Homo sapiens: one gene and its partners. The protein of the gene in region 1 purifies or fractionates together with the protein of each later gene. This does not show direct contact. Each region holds a gene or a part of one and is shown in the gene's direction. Other genes may lie near its edges. The genes, in order: NEUROG3, GXYLT2, ADCY6 and ZNF496.

Evidence for each region.
Region 2: the proteins of NEUROG3 (region 1) and GXYLT2 purify together in Homo sapiens (co-immunoprecipitation; 3 studies listed by BioGRID and IntAct, with this or other methods). This does not show direct contact.
Region 3: the proteins of NEUROG3 (region 1) and ADCY6 purify together in Homo sapiens (co-immunoprecipitation; 3 studies listed by BioGRID and IntAct, with this or other methods). This does not show direct contact.
Region 4: the proteins of NEUROG3 (region 1) and ZNF496 purify together in Homo sapiens (co-immunoprecipitation; 3 studies listed by BioGRID and IntAct, with this or other methods). This does not show direct contact.

The regions. Positions count from the first base shown.
Region 1 is NC_000010.11:69,571,176-69,577,977, reverse strand, and holds NEUROG3 (neurogenin-3), read left to right. Parts: upstream 1-4,555; 5' UTR 4,556-4,768; intron 4,769-4,867; exon of another isoform or gene 4,868-4,933; 5' UTR 4,934-4,934; coding exon 4,935-5,579; 3' UTR 5,580-6,280; downstream 6,281-6,802. UniProt on the Homo sapiens protein: Acts as a transcriptional regulator. Together with NKX2-2, initiates transcriptional activation of NEUROD1. Involved in neurogenesis. Also required for the specification of a common precursor of the 4 pancreatic endocrine cell types.
Region 2 is NC_000003.12:72,883,432-72,891,067, forward strand, and holds the start of GXYLT2 (glucoside xylosyltransferase 2 precursor), read left to right. Parts: upstream 1-4,614; 5' UTR 4,615-4,802; coding exon 4,803-5,077; intron 5,078-7,636.
Region 3 is NC_000012.12:48,779,078-48,786,099, reverse strand, and holds part of ADCY6 (adenylate cyclase type 6), read left to right. Parts: exon of another isoform or gene 1-1,541; intron 1,542-1,861; exon of another isoform or gene 1,862-2,661; 5' UTR 2,662-2,665; coding exon 2,666-3,529; intron 3,530-7,022. UniProt on the Homo sapiens protein: Catalyzes the formation of the signaling molecule cAMP downstream of G protein-coupled receptors. Functions in signaling cascades downstream of beta-adrenergic receptors in the heart and in vascular smooth muscle cells.
Region 4 is NC_000001.11:247,328,860-247,335,983, reverse strand, and holds the start of ZNF496 (zinc finger protein 496), read left to right. Parts: upstream 1-4,116; 5' UTR 4,117-4,194; intron 4,195-4,336; 5' UTR 4,337-4,552; intron 4,553-5,902; 5' UTR 5,903-6,018; intron 6,019-6,368; 5' UTR 6,369-6,405; coding exon 6,406-6,795; intron 6,796-7,117; coding exon 7,118-7,124. UniProt on the Homo sapiens protein: DNA-binding transcription factor that can both act as an activator and a repressor.

The DNA.
Region 1 (6,802 bases):
GGCGCCGCGCGCGAGCTGCGGACGCCTAGGGGAGGCGGCCCTGAGCAGGGAGGGGGGATCTGGAAATAAAGACCTCCGGCTCTCCTGAGCGCCCGGGCCCTCTCTTCCCTTTGTTCGAAGACTCCCTGGGCCGGAGCTCCCGTGTGCGCCCTGGGGGGTGGCATATGGCGCCCTGTCACCTACCCAAGAAAAAGAACCGGCCACCCTTTCAAGAGCGCACGAGGTCCCTGAGCCTGGGGAGGGGGAGTCTCTGAGGGAACGGCTTCTCTCCGAAAGTGGGTGAGGAGCCCGTCTTATCTCTCCCTACCCTGCCTCCACCATCCCCTCAGCTGGCGCAGCAGCCGTTGGGTGGGGAGCTGCGCGCTGGGCAGCACCAGCCTGCGGAAGCGCTCCAGCTCCTGGCAGATGAAATATGGGTCTGGTGAGCCCCTGGAGACCATATGCTTTCAATAAAAGAAGACAAATAGGACCGAGATAGGCCTTGCAGCCAACCTGTTATAAATGAGTGGCAATTGGGCCAATGTACACGGGGGCAGGGCCCCCGCGGGGAGGCCTGCTTGGTGCCAAATCCATGTGTCAGCTTCTGGGACAGGTGTGTCCAGGGGCCAGGGGCCAGGTCTCCCCCCTCCGGGTTTATCACGGCAAAGGTAATATTGTGCTAACTATGAGTAAACAGTCATTGTGAAAATGAGGGAGAGTTTATCAGGGCGAACTAGTTGGGGGGTGGCTTAACAATAAAGTTGTTCGCCTTAGGAGCAGGTGACGGCTGGCTGCACGGACTCCCGCGGTAGATGTTTTCCAAAGCACTCCACTTTACAATCTCTTGTAATTATTTATTAAACGAAATCTATTTATTATTATTTTAGCAAACACTGGAGACAGGTGGGGCTTTCTTTTCGTCGTCTCCTTTTGTTTGAAGGGCTGTTTGAAGTGGCCAGTCTCGGCCCGGGCAGCTCGCTCGCCAGATTTTTGTCTTCCCCTCTTTCACTGCTGAGCTGAAGGCGAGAGAAAGAATCCCCCTCCTCTGGCAAGCCATTAGCTATTCAGCTTCCCATGGCCCCCCTCCCTCCCTGCACAATTCTCAAAGAGCCCCCAGGCAATGCTAAAACTACCCCCGCCGACAAGAAGGCAGGAAGGCGGGCCGCTGCCTTCCTTCTTTTCCAATGTGCCCGCGGTCTCCAGGCGTCTGGCTACCGCCTCTCTCCGGGACCCCTCAGCCTCCAGGCAAACTTAGGTCTCAGGAGGTGTAGGGGTGCGGGAGTCCTGGAGGTCTTAGGGGCGGTGGATGACCAGGAGCTGCAGGAACAGACTCTGCTGTCTGCGGGAAGAGCCATTTCACAAACACTGCCGGTGCGCACGGAGTCATTACCGCCTGCGCCTCCGCAGCCAAAGGCACAGGAATTAACTTTGGAGAGGGGTCTATGTGTCCCCTGCAGCTGAGACAGAGGGCATGGATCCTCAATCTCTAATCGCCTAAGACTCCTTGACCTCCGGCCCTGGCCTCCTGGCTGGAAGAGGACTGCGGGAAATCCTTGCATCCCTCAAGAAGGCGGCTGCCCCCAGCCACCGCGCGCTCCTCGCCCTGGCTGCTTTTTGCGCAAAGCAGGAGTGATGGAGAACTGCAAGCCCTGGAGGGCCCTGAGCCGGAGGGGTTTGGGGGAGGCTGGATAAGAATTCCAAGCAGGTCCCAGAATTCTCTACCTATCAAGAAAGCTTGAAAGAATCCCCAGAGTCTTTCCTGGCATGGGAAGCTCACCCTGCGAACCTTGTCAGTATCCATTAGCCGCTCCAGGCAGGCCCCAGCCAGAGTGAGACCTACCCCTATCTGAGGTCCACTCACCCCCATCTGAGGTCCACCGCCAGATGAGAGTCATCCACAGGCTTCTGGGAAACCAGAGCGGTGCTTGGATCCCTCGTGGCCAGGGTTCCCTCCAAGGTGCTTAGCCAGGTCAGGAGGCCCTAGAGAAGCATGGTTTGGATTTTCTTTCCCAGACCAAAAAAGCTCCAAGTTGGTTCTCTCCCAGTTTCTAACTTGCAGTTAAATAAATCAGGCAAGGCTGGCCTATGAGGCAGACAAGTGTGAAGAAGGAGAAGGAGGAGGAGAAGGAGAAGGAGAAAGAAGAAGAAGGAGGAGAAGAAGAAGAAGAAGAAGAAGAGGAGGAGGAGGAGGAGGAGGAGGAGGAGGAGGAAGCAGCAGCAGCAGCAGCAGCTTGAATGGACAGTGGTTCCCCTTGCCTAGAAAATGGGACCATTATTTCTTTTCTAATCTGACCCCCAGACTCAGGACTTCCTCTATTTTCTGCATTTTGGGGTCTCTTGTTTTGCCTTGAAAAAAAATGTTTTCTCCCAAATCAAGGAGCAGTAGCTGGTGCAAGGGAAAATCTAGGGCTAGGAGTCTTAAGATATGACTTCTATGTGGTTCTGATAGAACTTGCTGTGTGACCTTGAGAGAGTCACTCCCCCTCTCTGGGCCTTGATTTTTTCATCTTTAAAGAAGGCCTCAAATTCCCATTCTTATGAGAAGAAGACAAGCTCCTAGTGAGTGGTGACCTAAGGGAGCAGCTGCAGCAAAATGCTAACCTGACAGTCCCAGATGGTCCCTTTATTGGTTCTGACCCTGGTCTCAGGCTTCATTTCCCCACAGCAAGGGAAGGAGCCTGCTCACAGAGCACCAGCTAAGATCAGCAGGACCGCGCCACACCCCCGCCCAGTCCTAGAGCCCCCCTCTCGCTGGTTCCTGAGCATACCACCCTCTTCCTTGGAGGAAAATTTGCCCCCAAGCAGCCTAGGCGGTAAGAGGCTATCACTAGGGCAGACTCACAGACCTACCTCATCCCCTCACCCCACCCTACAGTCTCGAAGTCGGGTCCTGTCCCCTCCTGCAGTTTCCGGGAGACTCAGGATATCTGGACCTGCTAGAAAGAGAAGCCTTCCTCGCCTAAGGAGACTTAAACCGGGATACTTAAACCTCCCGCCTCGGCGTCTTCCTCCAGGCACGACCGGGTCAAGAGAGAGAAGCGGAAGCTGCAACCCCTCACTCTGAGTGACCGGAAGCAGAAGACCACGGGATGTCCCAGGCGGGGACAAGAGGAGGGGCTGGGGAAGAAAGGAGGGATGATGAGTTCAGAGTCCCTTTGGAAAGGTTTCCAGAGAGCGCTACCAGGGACAACCCAAGGGGCTGGGGAAGTCCCTGCCTTGTGCTCTCTGTGCGATGCCCGAGTGATGCAGAGGCAGGGGGCTGGAGCAGGTGACTGCTGGCAGCTGCTGTCTGTCTGTGATTGGACCGGAGGACTAAGGGGAGAAAAAGTTTATCAGCTTCTCCCAGTGCCTGCACGCTGTGGTAGTTCAAAAGACACGAGGGGGAGGGGCACAGCAGCTCTGCTTCCCAGCGCCTTGGGAGACTGAAGTGAAAGGAACGCTTGAGCCCAGGAGTTCGAGACCATCCTGGGCAACAAAGCAAGACCGCCCCTCACCCCATACAAAATAAAAATACAAATAAATTAGCCGGGCACAGTGGCGCATGCCTGTAGTCTCAGCTACTGGGAAGGCTGAAGTGGGAGGATAGCTTGAGCCCAGGAGATCAAGGCTGCAGTGAGCTGTGATTGCACCACTGCAGTCCAGCCTGGGCGACAGAAGGAGACCGTTTTTTGGTTTTGTTTGTTCGTTTAAAAAAAAAAAGAAGCAAGAGCTCACTGTGAACTCCTGGTTCCTTCCTCCCCTCCTCACACTTCCCAGAACTCTTCCTGTCACGGTTCCTGGCCAGAACGCTGGGATACTATCTACAAGCTGTAGTAGGCTTGTAGTAATGGAATGTCCGCTTGAGGGGTCCCCGCACAGCCAACCCCTGCCTCTGGAGTGGGATCTATGGGGGTGGGGTTCTAAGCGCCTCTGGGGAGTGTGAGGTAGCATCTCAGGGTGTGGCAGAGGCTCGGACACCCCCAAAAGGTCTGCGAATGGAAGGGACATAGGCAGGATCTCTCTCAGTGATGTCCCCTGTCTTCCAGGATGAAGAGAGGCAGTGAAACACCAGGAGAGCAGGGCGTCCTTTAGAATTCCTGGACCCTTCTCCAGGCTGCTAGTCAGGACAATGAGCTCGTGGTTGTCTTTGCCACTATCTTCCTGTGCGATTTCAGACAAGCCACCTCCCTCACTAAGCCTAAATTTCCCCATGTGTAACGTGCAGGCATTGTACCCTAGAGGCATCAAAGTCCCCTCCAGGACAGATGCTAAGGAAAGATAGGCTAGGAGCAAAGCCGTCTGAGGTGGCCTGACCAGAGCCACACGAGGCTCTTCTCACTGGGCGAGGCTCTTTGAGGAACCGAGAGTTGCTGGGACCCAGCCCGCCCTCGAGAGAGCAAACAGAGCGGCGCTCCCCTCCCCCGACCCCGGCCCTTTGTCCGGAATCCAGCTGTGCCCTGCGGGGGAGGAGCGGGCTCGCGTGGCGCGGCCCCAGGGCCCCGGCGCTGATTGGCCGGTGGCGCGGGCAGCAGCCGGGCAGGCACGCTCCTGGCCCGGGCGAAGCAGATAAAGCGTGCCAAGGGGCACACGACTTGCTGCTCAGGAAATCCCTGCGGTCTCACCGCCGCGCCTCGAGAGAGAGCGTGACAGAGGCCTCGGACCCCATTCTCTCTTCTTTTCTCCTTTGGGGCTGGGGCAACTCCCAGGCGGGGGCGCCTGCAGCTCAGCTGAACTTGGCGACCAGAAGCCCGCTGAGCTCCCCACGGCCCTCGCTGCTCATCGCTCTCTATTCTTTTGCGCCGGTAGAAAGGTAATATTTGGAGGCCTCCGAGGGACGGGCAGGGGAAAGAGGGATCCTCTGACCCAGCGGGGGCTGGGAGGATGGCTGTTTTTGTTTTTTCCCACCTAGCCTCGGAATCGCGGACTGCGCCCAGTGACGGACTCAAACTTACCCTTCCCTCTGACCCCGCCGTAGGATGACGCCTCAACCCTCGGGTGCGCCCACTGTCCAAGTGACCCGTGAGACGGAGCGGTCCTTCCCCAGAGCCTCGGAAGACGAAGTGACCTGCCCCACGTCCGCCCCGCCCAGCCCCACTCGCACACGGGGGAACTGCGCAGAGGCGGAAGAGGGAGGCTGCCGAGGGGCCCCGAGGAAGCTCCGGGCACGGCGCGGGGGACGCAGCCGGCCTAAGAGCGAGTTGGCACTGAGCAAGCAGCGACGGAGTCGGCGAAAGAAGGCCAACGACCGCGAGCGCAATCGAATGCACAACCTCAACTCGGCACTGGACGCCCTGCGCGGTGTCCTGCCCACCTTCCCAGACGACGCGAAGCTCACCAAGATCGAGACGCTGCGCTTCGCCCACAACTACATCTGGGCGCTGACTCAAACGCTGCGCATAGCGGACCACAGCTTGTACGCGCTGGAGCCGCCGGCGCCGCACTGCGGGGAGCTGGGCAGCCCAGGCGGTTCCCCCGGGGACTGGGGGTCCCTCTACTCCCCAGTCTCCCAGGCTGGCAGCCTGAGTCCCGCCGCGTCGCTGGAGGAGCGACCCGGGCTGCTGGGGGCCACCTTTTCCGCCTGCTTGAGCCCAGGCAGTCTGGCTTTCTCAGATTTTCTGTGAAAGGACCTGTCTGTCGCTGGGCTGTGGGTGCTAAGGGTAAGGGAGAGGGAGGGAGCCGGGAGCCGTAGAGGGTGGCCGACGGCGGCGGCCCTCAAAAGCACTTGTTCCTTCTGCTTCTCCCTGGCTGACCCCTGGCCGGCCCAGGCCTCCACGGGGGCGGCAGGCTGGGTTCATTCCCCGGCCCTCCGAGCCGCGCCAACGCACGCAACCCTTGCTGCTGCCCGCGCGAAGTGGGCATTGCAAAGTGCGCTCATTTTAGGCCTCCTCTCTGCCACCACCCCATAATCTCATTCAAAGAATACTAGAATGGTAGCACTACCCGGCCGGAGCCGCCCACCGTCTTGGGTCGCCCTACCCTCACTCAAGTCTGTCTGCCTCTCAGTCTCTTACCACCCCTCCTCCAATGTGATTCAATCCAATGTTTGGTCTCTCAGCGCTTACTCCCCTTGCCTTGCTCCAAAGACGCTGCCGATCTGCTCTACTCCCAATCAGGTCCGGGATTTCAGGGCGCCTCACTCTGCCTTAAAGCCACGAAGGCGACCCTCTGCCTTCTCCTCGTGCACTTTTCGGAGCCATTGCCCTCCCGGGGCGGAAGACCAGGCTGTGAACTGGGAAAGCGCTAGCCCGGCCAGGGAGCATCTCCCCAGCCTCCCTGCGAACTGCGCCTGAAACGTGAGCTGCGCTGCAGGTGCCTGGAGCACCGCGCATCTTTTTTTTTTAAATCTGTTTGTAAATTATATGATGCCTTTTGAAATCAATTTTGGTACAGTAAATTATATGGCCCCTCCCCTGTTTTACACATTTGTATTTATTAATGAGATTTCACAGCAGGGAAAAGCCTATATTTTGTATATTAGATTATTTAGGGATTGCTGGATGAGATTTTAAGCCAATAAAAAAAAATGGACCTTCAAGAAGCCTTGGCAAGATGACTCCATTGTGTGTTGGGGAGAGGAGGGCCACAGTCACTACAGCTGAGGAAGAGCACTTCTGTCCAAAGAGAGGGATGACACTCTTTCTGGAGGTCTGGGCTAGAGCCAGGGCAGATTGGGTTTGGAGAGCTGGAAGTCTTCTAAGTAATTATTGGTCCAGCTCCCTTTTTTCTATATAGGGCAATGACTCCTCTTATTTCAAAGAGTGGTTTAGAAGAAAGACAAGCCTCCAACTAGGACAACTGACTCTCACTTGCTGGCCCTTTCCCCAACTCCACCAGCCTAGCTTTA
Region 2 (7,636 bases), on another chromosome or scaffold:
TGCCCAGCCCAGACAGCTCTATTGTAAAAGAAGATAAAAGAATTTCTTGAGACCAAGAGGTAGGCAAAGATTTCTTAGACAAAACACCAAACCTACTAACCCTGAGAGAAAAGACTGATAAGCTGAATTTCAAAAAAAAAAAAGAAACTGGATCCTTCCAACAATCATGTGAGTGAAACCAGGAGCAGATCTTTCCCCAGCTGAGCCTTCAGATGAGACCACAGACCTGGGCCAACAATTGATTATAGCCTTGTGAGAGACTGTGAAGCAGAGGGCTCAACTAAGCTATCCCTAGATTCCTGACTGACAGAAACTATGAGATTATGCATATTATCTTAAGCCACTAAATGTTGGGGTCATTTTTTTTGCAACAATAGATCAGTAATATAAGAGGTGAGGGAAAGAGGATGGTTTCCACCTAATTTCTGGCTTGAGCAACTAGGTAACTAGAGGTGTCAAGATTCTAGGAGAAAAAATAGATTTCAGAGCTTCCAAATTATTAAATATTCCCACATCCAGAACTTTTAATACAGTGGATTCTCAACGAATTAAAATAAAATGCTAATATGACAATGATTTAGAATATAATTGAATTTTAGATGATTTATAAAGCATTAAAATTAAGCATTTTTTTTCTATCAGACATCTAAGTGAGACATTGGGTAAGCCATGGGTAAGGGAGTCTAGAAGCCTTTTCTATAACATTAGAGGATGTAGCTCATTCTGTCTTGTCACCACCAGGTAAGAAGTGCCTTTCACCCTCTGCCATGATTCTGAGGCCTCCCCAGCCATGTGGAACTACATGTGCATTGCCATTGTGATTTCTCTTCTCATGATCCTGATATGTGCTATTGGCTACTTACAGAGCATACAAGCAACACATAGCCTAGATCCTCCCATTCTTCTGTTACCAGATCTTTAATTTTGCCCTGAATACCTTGGTTGCAATCACTGTGCTTGTTTATCCAAACGGCATTCAGGAATACATACGACAACTGCCTCCGAATTTTCCCTACAGAGATGATGTCATGTCAGTGAATCCTACCTGTTTGGTCCTTATTATTCTTCTGTTTATTAGCATTATCTTGACTTTTAAGGGTTACTTGATTAGCTGTTTTGGAACTGCTATCAATGCCAGGAACTCCTCTGATGTCCTGACTTACATTACCAGCAATGACACTGCCCCTGTATGATGATACCACTGTGAATGGTGCTGCCAAGGAGCCACCACCACCTTCCATGTCTGCCTAAGCCTTCAAGTGGGCAGAGCTGAGGGCAGCAGCTTGACTTTTAGGACATCTGCGAAATAGTTCTGTTATTTCACTTCTGCAATGAGCTCTCTGAGCTTGTTTGTTGCTGAAATGCTACTTTTAAAAGTTTAGATGTTAGGTTGAAGCCTGTAGTTTTTAACGTATGCTTTGCTAGAACACTGTGATAGATTAGCTATAGAATTCTTTCTGTAGGATTGGGGGTGTAACGGGCTTCACTAACCTTCCCTAGGCACTGAAACTTCCCCCAAATCTGATGGACCTAGAGTCAGAGAAGTCCACTTTTGTACCTGCTGGGACCCAAAGTTGAGCAGTTAGTCACATTTTTTCTCTCTGTTCCCTCTCTTTTGAAAGTGTAAAATAAAATCAAAAATAGACAACTTTTTCTTAAGCCATTCCAGTGTAGAAAACAAAACCTTATGAAAACAGGAATGTCAATTATGTAATCATTATTCTAATTAGTTAAATAGAAGTCCTTATGTATGTGTTACAAGAATTTCCCCCATAACATCCTTTATGATTTAAGTTCGATGACAGTTTGCGCTTGGTGGTAAAGGATTTTCTCCATGGCCTGAATTAAGACCATTAGAAAACACCAGGCCATGGGAGCAGTAACCATCTGATGACTGTTCTTGTGCATCTGGTGTCCAGGGACATGGGCGACGTGCCTCATCTGTGTTAGAGGGTGGAACAGATGTGTTTGGCACTGCATGGGATCTGGTGTTCCTCTTCTCCTGGATTCACATCCCCACCCAAGGCCCTCTTAAGTGTTCTGCCCTAGCCTGGTTCAAGGAGGTCATCCAACTGACTTTATCAAGTGGAATTGGGATATATTTGATATACATTTGCCTAACAACACGGAAAAGGGTTTTCCTCCTTCTTTCCCTGCAAGGGACATCCTACTGCTTTGAACGTCCAAGTATGCCTAGTCATCTTTTAAAATGTAAACGTTTTCAGAGAAATGAGGTTTGCTTTCCTTGTATGTGCTTATTATCTTGACTACCTGAATTGCGAGGGATTTTTATATATTCATATGTTCCAAAGTCAGCAACTCTCCTGTTGGTTCATTATTGAATGTGCTGTAAATGAAGTCTTTTGCAACTAAAATGAGATTTGACCACATCCAAAGAAAAAAAAATTAGAGGATGTAGTTTTCCACCAATCAGAGCAATCCAAACAAATCCAAAAGTTGAGTTTGGACTCAGTGGAAGGAGGCAGATTAGGCTTTTTTTTTTGGCTTCAGTGAGGTTCAAGAAAACTGAGTCCTCTCTTTGGTCCATGATTCTTTGGTGTTTGAGGCTAAAACCCTGGCTACTAATCAAGTGTTACTTTGACTCACTCTGCCTTTGTTTATCCTTGTTGCATCTGTCCTCCTAGAGGTAGAAGGGAGGGGGCAAGACAGAGTTGGGAATGCCTGCTTCTCTGGGCCACATGTCAACAGAGTGGTGGCCATTTCTAAACCTGAAAGATCTAAACATCATGCCTTAGCCTGGCCTAGTGTTTCTCAACAGGGTCCCACATTGGGCCAGGATAGTTTTCGTTGTTGGTATGTCCTGAGCATTGCAGGAGGTTTTGCATATGCTAGTAGAACCTGTCAGCCTTCCCACAATTCCAGATGCTTCCTGGTAGGATGGAACCTTCTCCCTCATCTTTGAGAACTAATGGATTCTTTGCGCTTACTCACCTACAACATGTCCCCCACACTGAACTTGCACCCTGCCATTTCCTAGATGTCTGCTTGGCAAGAGCTTCCAAATTACTAAATATTCTCATCTCTAGAACTTTTAATACAATGGGTTCTCAAGGAATTAAAATAAAATGCTAATATGAGAATAATTCAGAATATAACTAAATTTTAGATTATTTATAAAGCAACATGGAATCTTGTAGAAACTCAGGGACGGGCTGGGCGCGGTGGCTCATGCCTGTAATCCCAGCACTTTGGAAGAACGAGACGGGCGGATCACTTGAGGTCAGGTGTTCAAGACCAGCCTGGCCAACGTGGTGAAACCCCGTCTCTACTAAATATACAAAAATCAGCCGGGTGTGGTGGCGCAGCCTGTAATCCCAGCTACTTGGGAGGCTGAGGCAGGAGAATGGCTTGAACCCGGGAGGCGGAGGCTGCGGTGAGTTAAGATTGCACCATTGCACTCCTGCCTGGGCTACAGAGTGATCCAAAAAAAAAAAAAAAAAAAAAACTGAAAAACTCAGGGACGTTGTTATAACTTAACTAGTGTTCTTTGTTCTGTGGTGTGCTGAAAAGAGAGTTAATGGAGTCCTGGCTGTCAGTTCACCGTGAGTCATAAGAGGATGTGTCCTAATGTTTCAGATTTGTAACTGGGGATCCCCTGGAAGAATCGTCTGGAAATTACGACCTTCATCTGGCGATTGCAGCTGTTAAAGTCTCCAAAGAAGCCATTCTTACATTGTGTTGTGAAATTATTACTCTATCTCAAATCTGTGCCAGAAAGAAAATAAAATGTGTGTTTATGTGTATATTATAAGCTATGTTTTATTGAACTAATCATTACAGAACTTTTATTGGGCACCGACTGTGAGCCAGGCACTGTGCTAGTTTCTTTGAAGGCATTATTTAATTTAATGCTCACAAAACGCCTCTGTAGTGAGCAGTATTGTCATTCCCATTTTGCACGTAAGGAAGTTAAGGCTTAAGAAAGTTGTGCAGCTTCCTCAGGATCACCAAGCCAGTTAAGCACAGTGTCAGATTTCAAATCCAAACTTTGAAATTCATTCTCTAATTTCTTCAGACTACATGGATCGGTTCGGTCCAGTCTAGCTGTCCCAAGTTCTACTTTGGTGTTTTGAGTCTGAAACCCCAACTACTAATCACGTGTTACTTTTACTCGCTTTGCCTTATTTTGCATGTGTCCTTGTTGAATATGTCCTCCTCCAGGAAAAAGGGAGGTGGCAAGACAGAGGCGGCAATAGGGGTTTATTCAACAGATATTTATTGGGCACCACCACCCGCAGATCCCTGCACTGGGCAAACAGGACAGAGATGTTCCTGCCTGAAAGGATGTGTGGATAAGTGCACAAATGTGTGGATAGATGGATAAAATAAATAAGGAGGAAGCACATGGAATACATCAACAAATAAGTGAATCATGGTATGAGAGAATCAGCGGGAACAGTGGATGGCATGGGTGTGTGAGTGAATGGGGAAGTAAACGAACGAACGAACGAATGAATGAATGAAGTGGTTTTGAGTCTGAGCTACCAGAAGCCCGAGAGCCTGGCTGCGGGCGGGCGGAGGGGCGGCTACTCCACACAGTACGGTAGGCGCAGGCTGCTCCTCCTGTAACCCAGCTCTCACCGCCTCCCCCTCCTCTCCTCTCTCTCCTCCTCCTTCGCCGTCGCCGCCGCCGCCGGCCGCCCGCCGGCCGCCACGACCCCAGTCCCCGGCGGGCGGGCGGAGGAGGCGACCGCCGCGCGCTGCTGCACTCATCCTGCCGCCGCCGCGATGCGCAGAGGGGCCGAGCCGCCTGGGGGCCGCCGCCGCCGCCGCGCCGCACCATGAAGCTCCGCAGCAAGGCGGCGGCGCTGCTCTTGCTCGCGCTGGCCGCGCTGCTGCTGGCGCTGCTGTCCCTGCGCGCTGGCCGCGCTGAGCCCCCAGCGCTGCCCGCGCGCCCCGCGTCCGCCCCGCAGCGCCACCCCGCGCCTGTCCCCGCGCGCTGGCCGGGGCCGGGCGCCCTCCCCGGGGCCAGCCCGGGAGTTCGGAGGCGCCGGCCCCCGCGTCCGCGCCCCCGAGCGGGCCGCCGGGGCGCTGCGAGACTGGAGAAGTTGGCGAGGTGAGTCGTGGCAACCCCAGAATCCCATCTGCGGACCCGTGTCTCGCTCCCTACACCCGTGCCAAGTCCAAGGGAGGCTTTGCGCTGGAGAGACAGATTTCCAAGTTTCACCCACGGGCTGCCCACTTCTGTTTCTTAACCCGATAGAAAAGAAGACCCACCTTGGTGGAGTCCCCCTAACAGCTCGGTGTTGATAATCACGTACATTTTTTGAAGTGTCAAGGAAAGTGGTTTCGTACATTACATTTTTTAACTGTCAAGGCAAGGCGTATTTTTGCACTCTTGCAAACATGCACCCTTTGTTTAATTTGTCAAAAGCCATCACGGTGCAAGAATGTTTTATCTAATTCTCATGTTTCACTGGAGAATTTTACCGAAACCTTAGATATGGTTGAGTTGGAAAAGTTAGATGTTTACCAAGGACTGGCAGCCTCTCATTTAACCTCGAGTACCCCCATGCTTAGAACAGAAGGGACACTTGACCTAAGTTTATTAAAAAGAAGTTTTCTCCTTGAAAGGACTGATGCGTGGCACAGAAAAGACAGAGTGGGGGTTTCCAGATCCTCATTCTGTTTCAGGCTCGAGTGTGGTCAAAGGGTCCTCCTACAAGAAAAACAACTTAACCTTCGACCTTCTGTTTGATACTCTCTTTCCCTACACAAAGCCTAACACGCGGAGGCTTTTCATCAGAGAGCTTTATTTTTGGCCTCAGGGTTGCTGGAACGCCCCGCAGGTTAGGGATTTGAGTTCATTTCCTTTGTTGTGGAGGGCTTTTCAACAATCCCCTTGTCTTGTAGCGAGTCTGTTTCATCTGCCCTTTCAAAACTGTTGTTTCTAACTGCCATTGCAACGTCCTTGTTTGCTGGGCTCCTTAATTTCAACCTGAAAGGAGTTGAAAAATTATTTTTGACCATAATGACTAAATCTCTTTGGTGCCTTTACTGTAACTAAAAGACACGAAACCTCAAGAAGTAGCTGTGTCAGCCTTTGTTTCCCTTCTGTCTCAGTACAAATGGGTACTGACAAGTTTTAGGGGGAAAAAACCCCAACAATCTGTCGCTTTAAAGTACTTATAACACTTTACAGCCCTTTCTGGATGTATACAGTCTTTAAGGATATCTTTGTTAGGAAATTAATAGGATTTCCCCTCTTCTATACTGGAGTTTCTTGTAAGAGATTAATTAGGGTTTAACTGCAAGTTTAATATGATTGCTAAGTTTGATGGGACAACTGGTAAGATAATAATAACTGTCATCCTTAACATCGCTAACCTATTGCCAGGGACAGTGCTAACCGCAGTACATACAAATAGTCACAGTTAACACTTAACATATACAACTACATAATCCACACCATAACCTTCCCCCCCACCGCTGTTTTTCTTTTGGTTTTTTTTTTGTTTTTTTTTTTTTTTTGTGACAAAGTCTTCCTCTGTCGCCCAGGCTGGAGTGCCGTGCTGCGATCTCTGCTCACTGCAACCGCTGCCTCCCGGGTTCAGGCCTCCCAGATTCAAGTGATTCTTGTGCCTCAGCCTGCCAGGTAGCTGGCAAACAGGCGTGTGCCACCATGCCCAGCTGATTTTTGTATTTTTAGTAGAGAGACGGGGTTTCACCATATTGGCCAGGAACTCCTGAGCCCAGTGATCCATCTGCCTCAGCCTTTCCCAAAGTGCTAGGATTACAGGCGTGAGCCACCGCGCCGGGCCCAACCATAACCCTTTGACAGTGGTTCTCAAAGTGTGGACTTCAGACCAGTGGCACAGGCATCATCTGGGAACTTGTTAGAAATGCAGATTCCTGGGCCCCACCCCAACCCTACAGAATCAGAAGCTTTGGGGGGTCAGCAACCGTGTTTTAACACGTCCCTCCCATTGTTTCTCATGCACAACAAAGTTTGAGAACCTGCTCTGCAAAGTAAGCACCAATGGTATCCCCACTTTTCAGATGAGGAAAGTATTGCACAAGGGTTAGCAGTTTGTCCAAGGTTCACAGGTAACCTGGTAGAGAAGGATAAAGATCCAGGCAGTGTGGGCTCAGGTTGAGCACTTACCTGCTATGCTGATGTCAGGCCATAGACTTGCCTGCAATTCGTAATTTTACTGAGATGTCTTTTAAAGAAACACTGTAGATTTTTGGATCTGTCTCATTCTTCAAGGTGTCGAGAACAGTGGCGCAGCATCTTTTTGTGTCTATCTGAACAAAGTGTCTCTGACTAGGAGGAGATCATGAACAGAATCCAAATGGATGTTTTAGGGAAGGAGTGTTTCTATTTCCAGGAGTAACAGTACCCTTGAAGCCATTTTTCTTTTGAACATATCTCTTAGATTATCGTGGAAATTATGGCCAACACCATAGGAATACAGAACAAAATTTTAAAACTGGGGAAGGAGTAAAAAACAAAAGCCACAGGAAGTCTCAGGCTCAAATGCATAAACAGTTGACATTTTCTGGGACTTATTTATTGTTTCTCTTGCTACCTCCACAGAAATGGCAACAGAAGATTCTGAAGTTGTGAGGGAGCAGGAGGAAAGATCTCTGCTCGGTCTCCTTTATTGCTTTC
Region 3 (7,022 bases), on another chromosome or scaffold:
ATTACAAGGGACCCCTCAGGGTACTCTGTGAGCATAGAGGAGTGTGGCCCTGGTGGGGACACAGGCATGCATGGATGACAGTGCTGTCAGCCTCATCTTATTCTGACCTGGGCTCAGCCAGGAGTCACATTAAAGGTATCATCATGGAGTCCTCCCACCTCAGTTCATGACATTTCCTCCAGGAAATGTGGGATCTGGGACTGATTTGGTTACCATGATCTCTATAACTTGGGCCAGCCATATAAAACTGCCATGGACCTCAGTTTTTGTTTATATATATTTTTCCTTTCAAATTTGTCTTGTGCCCCAGGGGGCAACAGGACCAGTTTCTCAGGGTTTTGGTGAAGATCAGATGGAATTAGGGATGTGAAAAGATCTTGAACAGTTTAAAGCATAGAGAAAGTGCATGGAGTATCATTCGTCCATCCATCCAGTCATCCATCTACTCAATGAACATTTATTATTATTATTTTATTTTTTGAGATGGAGTTTCGCTCTTATTGCCCAAGCTGGAGCGCAATGGTGTGATCTCAGCTCACTGCAACCTCTGCCTCCTGGATTTAAGTGATTCTCTCACCTCAGCCTCCCGAATAGCTGGGATTACAGGCATGCGCCACCATGCCTGGCTAATTTTGTGTTTTTAGTAGAAATGGGGTTTCACCATGTTGGTCCGGCTGGTCTCGAACTCCTGACCTCAGGTGATCCACTCACCTCGGCTTCCCAAAGTGCTGGGATTACAAGTGTGGGCCACCATACCTGGCCTCAATGAACACTTGTTTAGGTCCTTCTAAGGGTTGTGGATACAGCAGTGAGCACAGCAGGTCAAAATCCTTGCCTTCATAAGGCTGACATTCCAGTCAGGAGAGACAGAAAATGAACACATAAGAAAAATATATAGAATGGCAGTTGCTGATTAGAGCTATGGAGAAAAAGCATAAAGCTGGGAAAAAGATAGAGAGCTCCAGGAAAGGGGGTTGCTATTTTAATAGGGTGGTCAGAGGGAGCCTCACTGATAAGGGGACATTTGGGATGTGACCTGGAGGAGCTCTTGTTCCAGACAGAGGGAACAGCAGGCACTGAGGTCCCAGGCTGGCCTGTGCGGGGTGTGTTGGGAAACAGCAAAGAGGTTCTTGTGACTGGGGTGCAGTGAGGAAGCTGAAGAGCCTTAGGATTATCACTGTTAGCTGGTGGCAGATCATGAGGTCAGGAGATCGAGACCATCCTAGCTAACACAGTGAAACTCCGTCTCTACTAAAAAATAGAAAAAATTTCCCTGGGCATGGTGGCAGGCGCCTGTAGTCCCAGCTATTTGGGAGGCTGAATGGTGTGAACCCGGGAGGCGGAGCTTGCAGTGAGCCAAGATCGTGCCACTGCACTCCAGCCTGGGTGACAGAGTGAGACTCCGTCTCAAAAAAAAAAAAAAAAAAAAAAAAACTCCAGATTTTTTCTTCTGCTTCTGTTGAGAAAAATCAGATCGGGACCCACTGGGACCCAGTGGCAACAGTCTACAGCTGCTGGGTGGTGCCTGCCCCATGCACAGGGTATGAACTCTTTTCCTCCCAGTTCTGAACCATAAGCTGCTTCACTCATTGACTTGGGCACTTGAGTTTGTGACCACCAACAAACAGTGCCTTTTAGGGAAATTTTCAAGTATACTGGCTTTGGGGTCAGACAAATCTGGTTTAGAATCGTGGTTCTCTCACTTATGTGGCTGCTGGATCTTTGGGCAACTCTTTCTTCTTTTCTTTTCTTTGTATTTTATTTTATTTTATTTTATTTTATTTCCCTCCCTTCCCTCCCTTCCTTCCCTCTCTCCCTCCCTCCCTCCTTTTTTCCTTCCTTCCTTTTTTTTTTTTTTTTCAGGCTATGGCTATTGCCCAGGCTAGAGTTCAGTGGTGCACAATCCTGGCTCACTGCAGCCTCCACCACCAGGGCCCAAGCAATCCTCCTGCCTTAGCCTCCTGAATGGCCCGGTCTATAGGTGCATACCACCACACCAGGCTAATTTTTTTTTTTTTGAGACGGAGTCTCACTCTGTCACCCAGGCTGGAGTGCAATGGCGCGATCTTTGCTCACTGCAACCTCTGCCACCCGGGTTCAAGCAATTCTCCTGCCTCAGCTCCTGAGTAGCTGGGATTACAGGCGCCCGCCACCACGCCCGGCTAATTTTTGTATTTTTAGTAGAGACGAGGTTTCACCATCTTGGCCAGGCTGGTCTTGAACTCCTGACCTTGTGATCTACCTGCCAGGGCCTTCCAAAGTGCTGGGATTACGGACGTGAGCCACCACGCCTGGCCCAGGCTAATTTTTTGAAATTTTAATAGAGGCAGGGTCTTGCTGTATTGCCCAGGTTGCTCTCACATTCCTAGCCTTAAGCCATCCTCCTATCTCGGCCTCACAAAGTGCTGGGATTACAGGTGTAAGCCACTGTGCCTGGTTTTGGGCAAGTTTCTTGTCCTGACTGTGTCTTGGGTTCTCACCTGTTGATTGGGGATACCCTTGTTGCCTACCTCCAAGTAATTTTATGAGGATGAAACTCATAGCTTGTCAGTGGGAAGTGCTTAGGTAATGAGCTACTAGTGGTGGCAGTGGCTGTGATGGTGGTATTAATACCACTCCTACTGGATGGTCTCTAATACTATCTCCTTCCTTCCCTACCAGCAACATGTCATGGTTTAGTGGCCTCCTGGTCCCTAAAGTGGATGAACGGAAAACAGCCTGGGGTGAACGCAATGGGCAGAAGCGTTCGCGGCGCCGTGGCACTCGGGCAGGTGGCTTCTGCACGCCCCGCTATATGAGCTGCCTCCGGGATGCAGAGCCACCCAGCCCCACCCCTGCGGGCCCCCCTCGGTGCCCCTGGCAGGATGACGCCTTCATCCGGAGGGGCGGCCCAGGCAAGGGCAAGGAGCTGGGGCTGCGGGCAGTGGCCCTGGGCTTCGAGGATACCGAGGTGACAACGACAGCGGGCGGGACGGCTGAGGTGGCGCCCGACGCGGTGCCCAGGAGTGGGCGATCCTGCTGGCGCCGTCTGGTGCAGGTGTTCCAGTCGAAGCAGTTCCGTTCGGCCAAGCTGGAGCGCCTGTACCAGCGGTACTTCTTCCAGATGAACCAGAGCAGCCTGACGCTGCTGATGGCGGTGCTGGTGCTGCTCACAGCGGTGCTGCTGGCTTTCCACGCCGCACCCGCCCGCCCTCAGCCTGCCTATGTGGCACTGTTGGCCTGTGCCGCCGCCCTGTTCGTGGGGCTCATGGTGGTGTGTAACCGGCATAGCTTCCGCCAGGACTCCATGTGGGTGGTGAGCTACGTGGTGCTGGGCATCCTGGCGGCAGTGCAGGTCGGGGGCGCTCTCGCAGCAGACCCGCGCAGCCCCTCTGCGGGCCTCTGGTGCCCTGTGTTCTTTGTCTACATCGCCTACACGCTCCTCCCCATCCGCATGCGGGCTGCCGTCCTCAGCGGCCTGGGCCTCTCCACCTTGCATTTGATCTTGGCCTGGCAACTTAACCGTGGTGATGCCTTCCTCTGGAAGCAGGTAGGTGGCCAGGGAGGTAGGGATGGAGGGCAGCAGGTGGGGAATTTCTCACCTCATAAGCAGGTGGGGGCTTAGTGAGGAAGGGCGGGTGAGTCATGGGTGGAAGCTGGGTGCAGGGATGTCTGGCTGTATCTGGGAGGAGGAGCAGGAGGTGGGAGGCTAGGGTTGAGGGGTCTGCCTCCATGTGGGATCTGGGGTAGAGGACACTGCTGAGGGGAGGGAGGGCCCCAGGACCCAAGCCTGAACTCTGTCACCATGGGCCCCAGTCTCCGGCTCTTTAGCCCGCTGAAATAGTGCAGTCTGTAGAGACAGAATGTGGGGCTGGAGGCAGGGGTGTGGTATATAGCCCCAGGGCCACCGTGGGGCTGAAAAGGCAGTGCAGGCTGTGTCCAGGCCTTAGCATCTCAGCAGGCAAGTTGACACCAGAGACTGAGGCGCTGGTGCTATCCCTGAAGAGCAGCTCTAGGTGGTGATCTGGAGGTATAGAGCAGGTTTTGGATGTTGTCAGCAAGAGAGGAGTCCCCTCTTTCCTGGACCAAGGCCACTTCTGGGAGGACAGGGAAGGTGAAGAGCTGGGGTCAGTTCTCTCTGGGCTGGATGTGGTTTGAATGGGGTTGGACTGTTGAAGAGAGGAGCGTTAAGTCTGATCGTATCCCACCTTCCCCATGCTGGGCACCAGGGACCTGGGCGCCTTTCCTTGAGGTTCTCTGTCCATGCCTGTTGCTGCCTCCAGGCTCCAAGTGTGTGTGAGGTGGGACTCCACGGCTCCGTGTGGAGTGGCTGTAGGCTGACCTGCTTATCCAGTGGGCTGTATTCTTTTCTGTGGGATCTTAGACAACTAGCCTCACCTCTCCCAGCCTTAGTTTCCCAGTCTGCAAAGCTGGAATAAAAATAGCATCTAGCTCATGTTGCTGTTGGGGCCCCACCCTTTCCTAGAGTGGAGTAGAACCCGACTGGGCAGTGTTCACACCTGGGGGCAGGGAGGTTTGGGGAGTGCTGGAAGGCATGGTACCCAGTGAAGGGGTTTCTGGGAAGTCCCTTTCAGAGAGATGTTAGTTTGTGGATCTGCCATCTCCTGTTACCCCCCTGCCCAGGGAGCAGAGGCCAGGGTCCTTCAGGCGCTGCTGTAGGCACAGCCCCGCCATCAGCACAGCGCCTGGGTCCTCCACTGGACCCTAACTAGAGAGTGCTGTCTTGCTCAAGGTTTTGAAGGCTTGTGGCCTGTTGCCCACCCTGCCTCAGGCACAGAGAGGAAGTTGCCTGGGGATCCCAGGGTGAGAAGCTAGGTTCTCTGGCATGATGCCCTTCTCCACCCAGCCTGTGCTGCAGAACAGAACTTACCTGTTTTTTTTGTGGTTTTTTTTTTTTTTTGAGACGGAGTCTTGCTCTGTCGTTAGGCTGGAGTGGTGCAGTGGCGCGATCTCAGCTCACTGCAACCTCTGCCTCCCAGGTTCAAGCGATTCTCCTGCCTCGGCCTCCTGAGTAGCTGGGACTACAGGAGCGCGCCACCATGCCCAGCTAATTTTTGTATTTTTAGTAGAGACAAGTTTCACCATGTTGGCCAGGATGGTCTCGATCTCTTGACCTCATGATCCACCCGCCTTGGCCTCCCAAAGTGCTGGGATTACAAGCGTGAGCCACCGCACCTGGCCAGAATGCCAGAATGCCAGAACGTACCTTTTTAAAAGTAACTTTATAGCCCGTTTGTTTGTGGAGCACGTGCCCTTAGGGCACTGTCAGACATCTTAAAGGGCCAGGTCCTTCTGCCCCAAAGCTTCTCTTCCAGGGTGGCTCTCAACCAGGGCTTTATGGCTGGACTGCCCTCCTGGGGAAGGAGCTTAGAGGTGGTGTCTCCTTTCCCCCTTCCTCTCTGGCCAGGCATGGGCTGGGTGGGCATCTGTTCCCTGCTCTCGACTGGCATGGTGCCCAGAGCCAGGCCCAGTGCCTGACTGGGGAGGTGCAGTCCCAGGGAGGCCAGGACTGTGCCCGTCTCCCCAGGAGTGTCTGGCTACAGCTTCATGTAGTGGATCTCGATAGGCACATTCTTGGGGCAGTGGCGAAATTCACTGCTGCCCCTGTGCCAGTCCTTGGGGCCAGAGCTGCCCATACAACTTCCTCTGGGCTGAGAAACATTCCCTGTGCCCATTTGGGTATGTGGGTTTCTAGACAGGTGGGGTTTGTGGCCTCCTTCCTCGTCTACTTGGGCAGCCCCTTCCCAGATCCACCCCTACTCACAATCACAGGAAGGAGACTTTGTCCCCTACCGACCCACTCATTTAGACATACTGAACAGTGTCACCCAGTGACCCAGGCCCAGCTTGGAGTCTCCTCCGGTCCCCTGGCATCCATTTTTTCTCATAGTCAGATAGGGATGTGTGTGTACAGAGTTATTTCAGTCTCGTCCCCCTTCCCCTTCCCTCCACCGTGACTCACATTTTCCTCTTGGGCTCCTGGGGCCAGGAAGGGAAGTTGCCTGGTTTGCCCCCCTTCCCTTCTCCCCCACTGGGGGCTATTCTTAGAAACCCCCAAGGGAGATAGTGTGCCCCTCTCTTCACCCCTGCTGCTGGGAGGGGGAGCTCAGCCTAGTTGATCCTGGGCCTGTGAGCTGGACTGGGAAGGGAAGCTAGGAGGCCCATCCCAGAGGCTGGAGCTGGAAATGGCTAGGGGTGAGCCAGGCCTCCCCCTCAGTTTTACCCAAGAGGAAACTGAGGTCCCAAAGTTTAAGTGACCTGCCCAATTTTGCAGGACTAGTTCTAGTTCAAGTTAGAGCCCAGAACCTCTGGCTTCCAGGAAGTGCTTCTGCTGTTTCTCTCCCTTCTCCTTAAACCAGAGCCCTGCCCCATCCAACTCTGGGGTGGAGCCGCAAGCTCCAGGTTAATTCCTGAGTTTCCAGAAACACTGAGGCCAGCTTCCCTTAGACTTGCTCTCTAGCCAGTGCCGCTGATGATGATTGGGGGCTGAACATTCCTAGGGTGGGGCCCTAGGCCTAGGGCCTGGCAGGGCTGAGTGTCAGAGGGAGTTACACCTTGAGGGGTGGCCAGGCATGGTGGACCCCATCTCCAATTAGGGGACATCCTTTGTATCAGTAGAACTGATGACTCTCAAGCCAGGGCTCTGAGGTTGGGCTTGAGAGCTTGACTCAGTAGAGTGAGTAGGAATCTTGGAAACCTGGAATGCACTACAAAGTATGGAATGCAGTAGATAGATAGTAGGATTAGGACACAGGATTTGGAATCTGATTGTCCTGGGTTCAAGTCTCACACTAGCCACTAACAGCTGTGTGATCTTGGGGAAGTTACTTGGCCTCTCTGTGCCTCATTCCCTTACCTTTAAAATGGGATATTGTTACCTATTTCACAGAGTTTTAAGAAATGTGTTAGGGGCCAGGTGCGGTGGATCATGCCTGTAATCCATGCCCGTAAGCACTTTGGGAAGCCGAGGTGGGCGGATCACTTGAGGTCAGGAGTTCAAGACCAGCCTGACCAACATGGTG
Region 4 (7,124 bases), on another chromosome or scaffold:
ATATCTAAAAAACAGCCTCACAGAAACACCAGACTGGTGTTTGAACAAAAACTGAGTACCACAGCTAGCCAAGTTGCCTCATAAAATAAAACGTCACACTTGCTCCTTATTTTACTGGAGTGTTGGCAAAGTTGGAAGAAGCCTGCCCCAGGCTCTCCCTGCCCAGATGCTGTGGACATGCCTCAGGTCCAGAGGCAGCCTTCCCTGCCCTCCGGCTCCCCGTGGGCCCTGGGTGCCAGCCCTCCCTCCTCCAGGCGATGCACTGCAATTTCTCCCATCTTTAAGATGAGACCGTTTTTCTCCACAGGGCTGTGTCCACTCTCATCTCCCTTCTCTTCCAGAAAGTGCCCTAGCCCAGGAGCTCCACTGTCTGCTTTGCTCAGGGGCCTCTCTACCAGATTCAATGGGCAGTGTTCTTTCCTCATCGGATTTGATCTTGGCGCAGGATTTATCCCCCTGACCTCTTTCTCTCCTTGAAACACAGGTGCTCACTTGGATTCCAGGGCTCCACACCTGCAATTTTCCTTTTATCTCAAGGCGGCAGCAGCTCTCCCTACCCCCTTCTCTTGCCCTCGTCCTCCCTCACTTTCCTCCTCCTACTTCCCCTTCTCTCCCTTCTCCTCCACTAACCCCTTGGGCTCCCACGGTCCAGGGCTGGCATTTCGCAGGGTCTGCCCTCCCTGGGGCTGCTTCTCAAAACACACTCAACCCTCTCAAGCCCCAGCTCCTGCTACATACGGTGACTCCAGATTTCCACCTCCAGCCACAGCTTTCTATCCCAGAGGGTCATCCCCACTTGTCTCCTGGGCATCTGAAAACCAGCAAGTCCCAAATCCACCAATTCAACCCCAAACCCAACCCCTTCCTGGAAACCTGCTTCCTTGCATCTGCCATCTCTAGAAGGCCTGTTCAGTCACCCAGTTTCAGCCCCAGTCACAGCCGTTCCTCACTCCTCTAACACAGGCAGCATGCCTTCAACACAGAGCCTGGATTGGGCCTACTGTTCACCAGCTGTGCCTCCACCAGTCAACTCCAGGAACCGAGCATCTCCTGCCGGGATCTCTACAACGATTCCTAACAGAGACTCTGCTTCATCTGTTCTGCACAGTGATCTTGATAAAATCAAGATTCCGTTAGGCCACACTCCTACTTGAAACCCTCTAATGACTATAACATCTGGTGACCTGGTTCCAGCCTCACCATTCTCTCACTATTCCTCTGCCCAGCTGAGCAAGCACACGCTGTTTCCTCTGCTGGAATACTCTTCCCACACACCTCTGCTCAGGAGCCCCCCACCTGCTCTCCACTCAAATGTCACCTCCTGACAGAGGCCCTACCTGAACATCCCCAGCACACTCTTCCCCACCATGTTGTATTTCTTTCATGACACCGATCACCAATGGCGTTATATTGCAGAATCGCTGATTTATTATTTGATTCCCCTCCCAACTCCTTGGATCATTCTTCTATGGTCTCCCCATGGATCGAATAATCATTGGCACATAGCAAACATTTCATAAAAACAGATACAATTGGCAACATTATATTCATACAAACCTAATACACGCACACACTGGGCATGATGATGGTGCAGTCCTTGAGCAGGGTTTACAGGCAGGATCCTCTTCCCGATGCTTCACCCGTGGTATCTGATACAACCCCACTTCATTCAGAGGCGAACACCTTCCCCACGGGCTCCTGTGCCCCCACCCAGCTCTATGCCATCCCTCTCCTCTCACTCACCAGCCCACCTTGCTTCGCACCGCTCCCCCTTAGGGCCTTTGCTGTCAAGGTGGTCTCCATGTGTCAAACAGGGACTCTGACCAACTACTTCATCTCAAATACCACCTTCACAGTAAGGCCTGCCTGCCCTCCTCTTTAATACCATGACTGTTACCAGCCCCTCCCCAGCACTCCTGACTTCCTGATGCCTCTCCACTTTCCTTTTTTTCTGTAGCACAGATCAAAGAGAGCAGGTCATGTTACTGATTTTGCTTCCTCCAATAGCCAGTTGTGTTCACAGATGTACCTGAGCACCTGGAAGGCTGGCTGCCTAGCACTCATGAGTGTACAGTAGGTACTCGGTATAGGTTTGCTGAATGACTGAATCTTTGATCCTGCACAACCATCCAATGAGGTAGACAGCATCATCCCTGTTTTCTGGATGAGGAAGTTGAGGTACAGAAAGGTTATGTAGGCCTGAGGTCACCTGGCTAGGAATTCATAGGGCAGGATTTAATCCGGGTGCCTGAGTCCAGAACCTTGACTCTGAAGCCCTGTTTTGAGCTAAATGCAGCAGCAGCATAAACAGCCCGTTTTGTGCCTCAAAAGGTGAACAGTGGGAGGCACAGCTGGGCAGGGACGTGTCAGGTCAGGGGAAGAAACTGAATTGGGTAGTGGGGATTAATTGGATGCTGTCTGCCAGCAATTTCTGCCTCCTGCATTTTATCTGCTTTAGGGTTGCAAGGGGCAGAGCTATGAACACGGATGCCCACTCAACAGCCAGTTCCTGGGCCAATCAAAGGGTTGGGAGCTGTAGCACCAGAGCTCTGGAACCCCACAGACTAGGATGTTTGCTAGAGCACCTAAGCCCTACCAGCCTTTGATGACCCCTCGGTTCCTCCCAATTCCTCTCCTCCATGTCACGGTTCCTGGCTGGTGTTCCTGAGAGTGGGCTGTACATGAGTTCTGTAAATGCCAGTCCAGTTACGTCAAAGGGGGTGGCTCTCACTTGTACCTGTAGGCTCCAGCTAAGATCTGCGTGGCCCTGCCCGGCATCTGGCTGTCATCCGGGAAACAATCACTGTTCACAAACAAGGGCTTCACTCCTTCGCTCGCTCCATCTCCTGCTAAAGTCAGAATGTGAACACTGACAAACAGCGGCTCCCAGTAACTCTGCTAGTCAGAAGTGATTATTCCAGCAGTTCAGAGGAGGAAGTGGCGGTGCCCAGGGCCACGGGATTAGAAGAGCAACGGAGCTAAAGGATCCCGTGCCTCAGTCCAACCACCTTGTTCCCACTTACTCAGCCGGGCCACTTTCTTTGGAGAAACTGATTTCCTTCTGCTTGCCCTTGAAAGGGGATCCGAAGGAAATCGGAGCTACCGGCAGTAGCTACCCTCCGGAAGACGGAGAATCTTCTCCACCTTCTCCTCTGCGTAGGAGAATCCAATTTCGGTGCAGAGCAGATGGCGAAGGGGCCATGGGAATCAGACCTGCTCAGGGACCGGGTTCGCACTTTCTCTCAAGCTCTGGAGCCTGAAAAATGAGCATTCCCCGGGGACGACCCATGTAAGAATTTGGGCTATATTCAGCATAGTGCAGCGGCCAGCAGCCCTGTCTCGGGGTGGGGTCCGGAGGCCCCCATTTCTGCTTGCCCCTCACTGCCACATAACCTTGGGTCAGAGTCCCTCATCCTCTCCCTCCGCCACTGTGCACAGCTGCAACCGTGTTCACTTCAGCGAGCAACGAGCCCCGTGACCCCCACTCAGGGTCAGGACTCACCGCAGCCCCTCTGCGCAAGCCCCGAGGCTCTGCGTGGCCTCCGGATGCGCGGCCTTTCCTAACCCGGGGACTCCGCACGTGGGCGCCAGGCCCGGAAGGCGCGGATGTGAGCGCTACCTTCGGCGTCCCGCAGCGGCAGGAGGGGCTGGGCGGCCCGGGCTTCGGCTGGCGGCGGGGGGGGGGTCGCAGGGGAGTCTGAAATGAGGCGGCCGACGGCGCGCGGGGCCTCCTCTCTCCGCTCCATCCCGCACCCCCAATTCCAGCTTCCATCCCCAGCCGCGACTCCCGGTCGGCCGTTCCGGGCGTCCACTGGCCGCGTGTCCTGGGGGCGCCAGAGAAGGAGAACAGCGGAGAAAAGAGCCCCGGGCCGACCTTCCGGACCGGCGGGCCCGCGGGGAAGCCCGGGCGCGGCGACGTGGCTGACCCACAAAGCCCCCGGCCCGGCGGCCAGGCCCAGGCGCGCGCGGAGCGGGGCGGGCCGGGGGTGTCGGATGTCACCCCCAGCGCACACCTCGGCCGGGGGGCGGGGGAGCGAACCACTGAGATGCGGAGACCTCCCCAGTCCTAGAGCGGAGCAGGAAGTGTCCCAGGGGAGGGAGCCGGAGGGCTCCGGCCTTTCCTTTCCTCGGCGTCCGGCGGGCTCCCGCGGCGGCCAGGCCTGCGCCGCCCGCCAACAGGGACGCGCCGCGGCGGTGAGTGCACCCCGGCTCCCGCGGCCGGCCCCGCCCCGCCCTCCTCGGCCCGCGCCCGGCCTCCGCGGCGCCGCCTCCCAGCCCAGAGCCCAGCGCTCAGGAAGGTGCGGGCGGGGGAGAAAGCAACACCATTGTTTTTCAGGCGCCTCCATTTGCCCCCGAGCCGAGCCGTGGCTTTCCGGATGATCGGGAGACGCGGTCTGGACGGGCCGGGAAAGGAGCCGGGCGCCTGCGGAGACCCCGCCTCAGCGAGTACGCCCGGCCGGGCGGGCTGGGAGGATGAGGACGGCTGCCCTGGACTTCCGCCGCCACAGGAGGGTTTTCGGCCGGACGCCGGGAGGGAGCTCCAGGCTGTGAGGTGAGGAGCCCGGAGCCGGCGAGACGGGAGACGCGCGTGTGAGGGAGACCGAGGGCGCGGAGGGCGGGCTCCCCCTTCCCTGGCCCACAGCGACCTTCTCCTTCCCTTTCTGCCGATCCAGCTCGGTCCCTCCTCCGCGAAAGGCTGGGAGCTCGCTCCGCCCCTGCGGGGCCCTCCTCCGCCTCACTCACGTTAGTTCATTCATCAGGCATCTCCTCCGAGCCTCCGACGCGCCAGGTGCCGCCGTGACAAAGACGGACGCGGCCGTCTGGTTGGAGACGATCCGAGTGGCAGCCCGGGTGGGCGCCGGTGCTCGGGGGGGCGGGCCTGAGTAGTCCTGGGCGCTGCAGGTGTGTGATGGGCGCCGCAGGGGGCCGCCGAGCAGGGCGGGCGGGGCCCACCCCGGGCTCCAGATGCCGGAGCCGCCCTGGAAGCGATCCGGTGGTGGGGAGCGCTGTAATGCGTCCAGCCCGACGCCGCCACGGCCCCCATATGGGTTTCTGTGTATGTTGTTACTTTGGAAAGCAAAGAGATTCAGAGCAGTGGGTGTTTCTGGAACCACTCAGTTGTTCCGTAGCTTTTCTGGCATCACTTGTCTTTCTGTGAAATGGGAGTGAGGCCCGAGTCCCCCTTCCCACCTTGTGAGCTGTTGGAGGTTAAGACGCGGCCACGCTGGACAACCTCGTGCAGATGGGGGAGTGGCAGGCACTGCCGGTCCTAAGGATCACAGAGGCCTGATGGCAGAGAAGGGGACTGTGAGTGTCCCCATGTGCCCTTTCACGGGCCCAGCGTTCTAAAGTGGGAATCATAAACACCAGGTATACTGGTTGCTGGTCTCTTGCCACCCTAGTTGTGGCAAAAGTGTCGGCTAGTTGTCTGCACACCAGCGGGGAGGTGTAGGGACCCCTGAGTCCCACCTTGGGGGTGTGGCAGCTGCAGTGTCCAGGGGTTCTTTGAGGGCTGAGCTGTGCAGTGACGGACCCACTTTTCTGTCCTGGCCGAGGAAGGGCTTTGGCGAGTGTGCAGTTGCCTTCAATGTGGTTTGAAGAGGGCAAGGATAGAGAATAGGGTGGAGGCGAGGTTGAAGGTCAGGGCAGAATTGGCAGAAGGCTCATAGGAAACCACTGATACTTCTAGATGCAGTGTTATTTGTCCCTGGTAGACTGCATGTAGCTGTCTCATGTGATGTTTTCCCTTGCCTCCCATTGCAGACTCTGCTGGGCAAAGCTGATTCTGGCTGGGTTGTCCATCCAGCACGCAGCACCATCAGCCCTCTGCCACCAGAAGGGTGGATTTTCCATTCCTGGATGTGCTTGAAGGCTCATCCGATGCATGTCTTTGTCATTCCAGCTCCATTTGTAAAGGTCTTAATAACAAGAACAGTGACTTCGGCTCCGGAGCTTCAAGATAGTGGCCTGCTTGGCCTGCCCATCTCGGATCTCTCCAGGAGGACCCAGCCACCCAAGGTACCAGAGCGTCTTGATTACATCTGCATGTGGCGCTGTTGGTTTCCTGGGATGCTCAAAACAGCAGTGTCACGTTGAAATGCCACCACTTTCTCCCAGATTTCCTGTCTTGTTCATCCAGTCACCCACTTAACGGGAATCCACACGTAATGGTACTGATGGGGGGAGGGCATCTTTCTGTCTGTTTCATCCTGTGTGTAAAGACCAGCCACACCAACACTCCCTACCTTTCCCAGGGCTTCTCCAAAGGGCTGGTCTCTGAGGGCATTGACAGTTTCCTTGTCACTGTCCCCCAGAAATGACCACAGGAGACCAGAACACTGAAGCCAGTGATTTCTGTTTGGAAATAGGGTCGTCTTCTGCTGCTGACCCCCATCAAATCCCATCATGCCCACAGCCCTGTGCCCCCGAGTCTTGGCTCCGAAGGAAAGTGAGGAGCCCAGGAAAATGAGGAGCCCACCTGGAGAGAACCCTAGCCCCCAGGGGGAGCTTCCCAGCCCCGAGTCCTCTCGGCGTCTCTTCCGCCGTTTCCGCTACCAGGAGGCGGCGGGCCCCCGGGAGGCCCTGCAGCGCCTCTGGGACCTGTGCGGGGGCTGGCTGCGGCCTGAGAGGCACACCAAGGAGCAGATTCTGGAGCTGCTGGTGCTGGAGCAGTTCCTGGCCATCCTGCCCCGGGAGATCCAGAGCTGGGTGCGGGCGCAGGAGCCTGAGAGCGGAGAGCAGGCTGTGGCCGCGGTGGAGGCACTGGAACGGGAGCCCGGGAGACCCTGGCAGTGGGTGAGTAGAAGAGGTGGGGCTGGGACGGGTAGAGATCTGGTACTTAGACACTTTGGCTGGGCCATGCATGTGCTGGCTGGGGAATGAGGAGTTCCATCGAGAGCCATTTACTTTGGTTAGGTCCAGACTAGAGTTTCCTAAGAAAGCCAGTTTTACTCCCTGAAGGCTCTAATTTGGGCATGATAGTGTCGTGCCCCTTTACAGCCCAGTCCAAGGCCTAAGTTGAGCCTTTGATGGTCAGCTGTGGAGTGGATGGTCACCAGGCCCAGGGAGAGATGGGACCTCTTCCCCTAGCCCTGAAAAGCTGTCTCTGGGATTGCAGCTCAAGC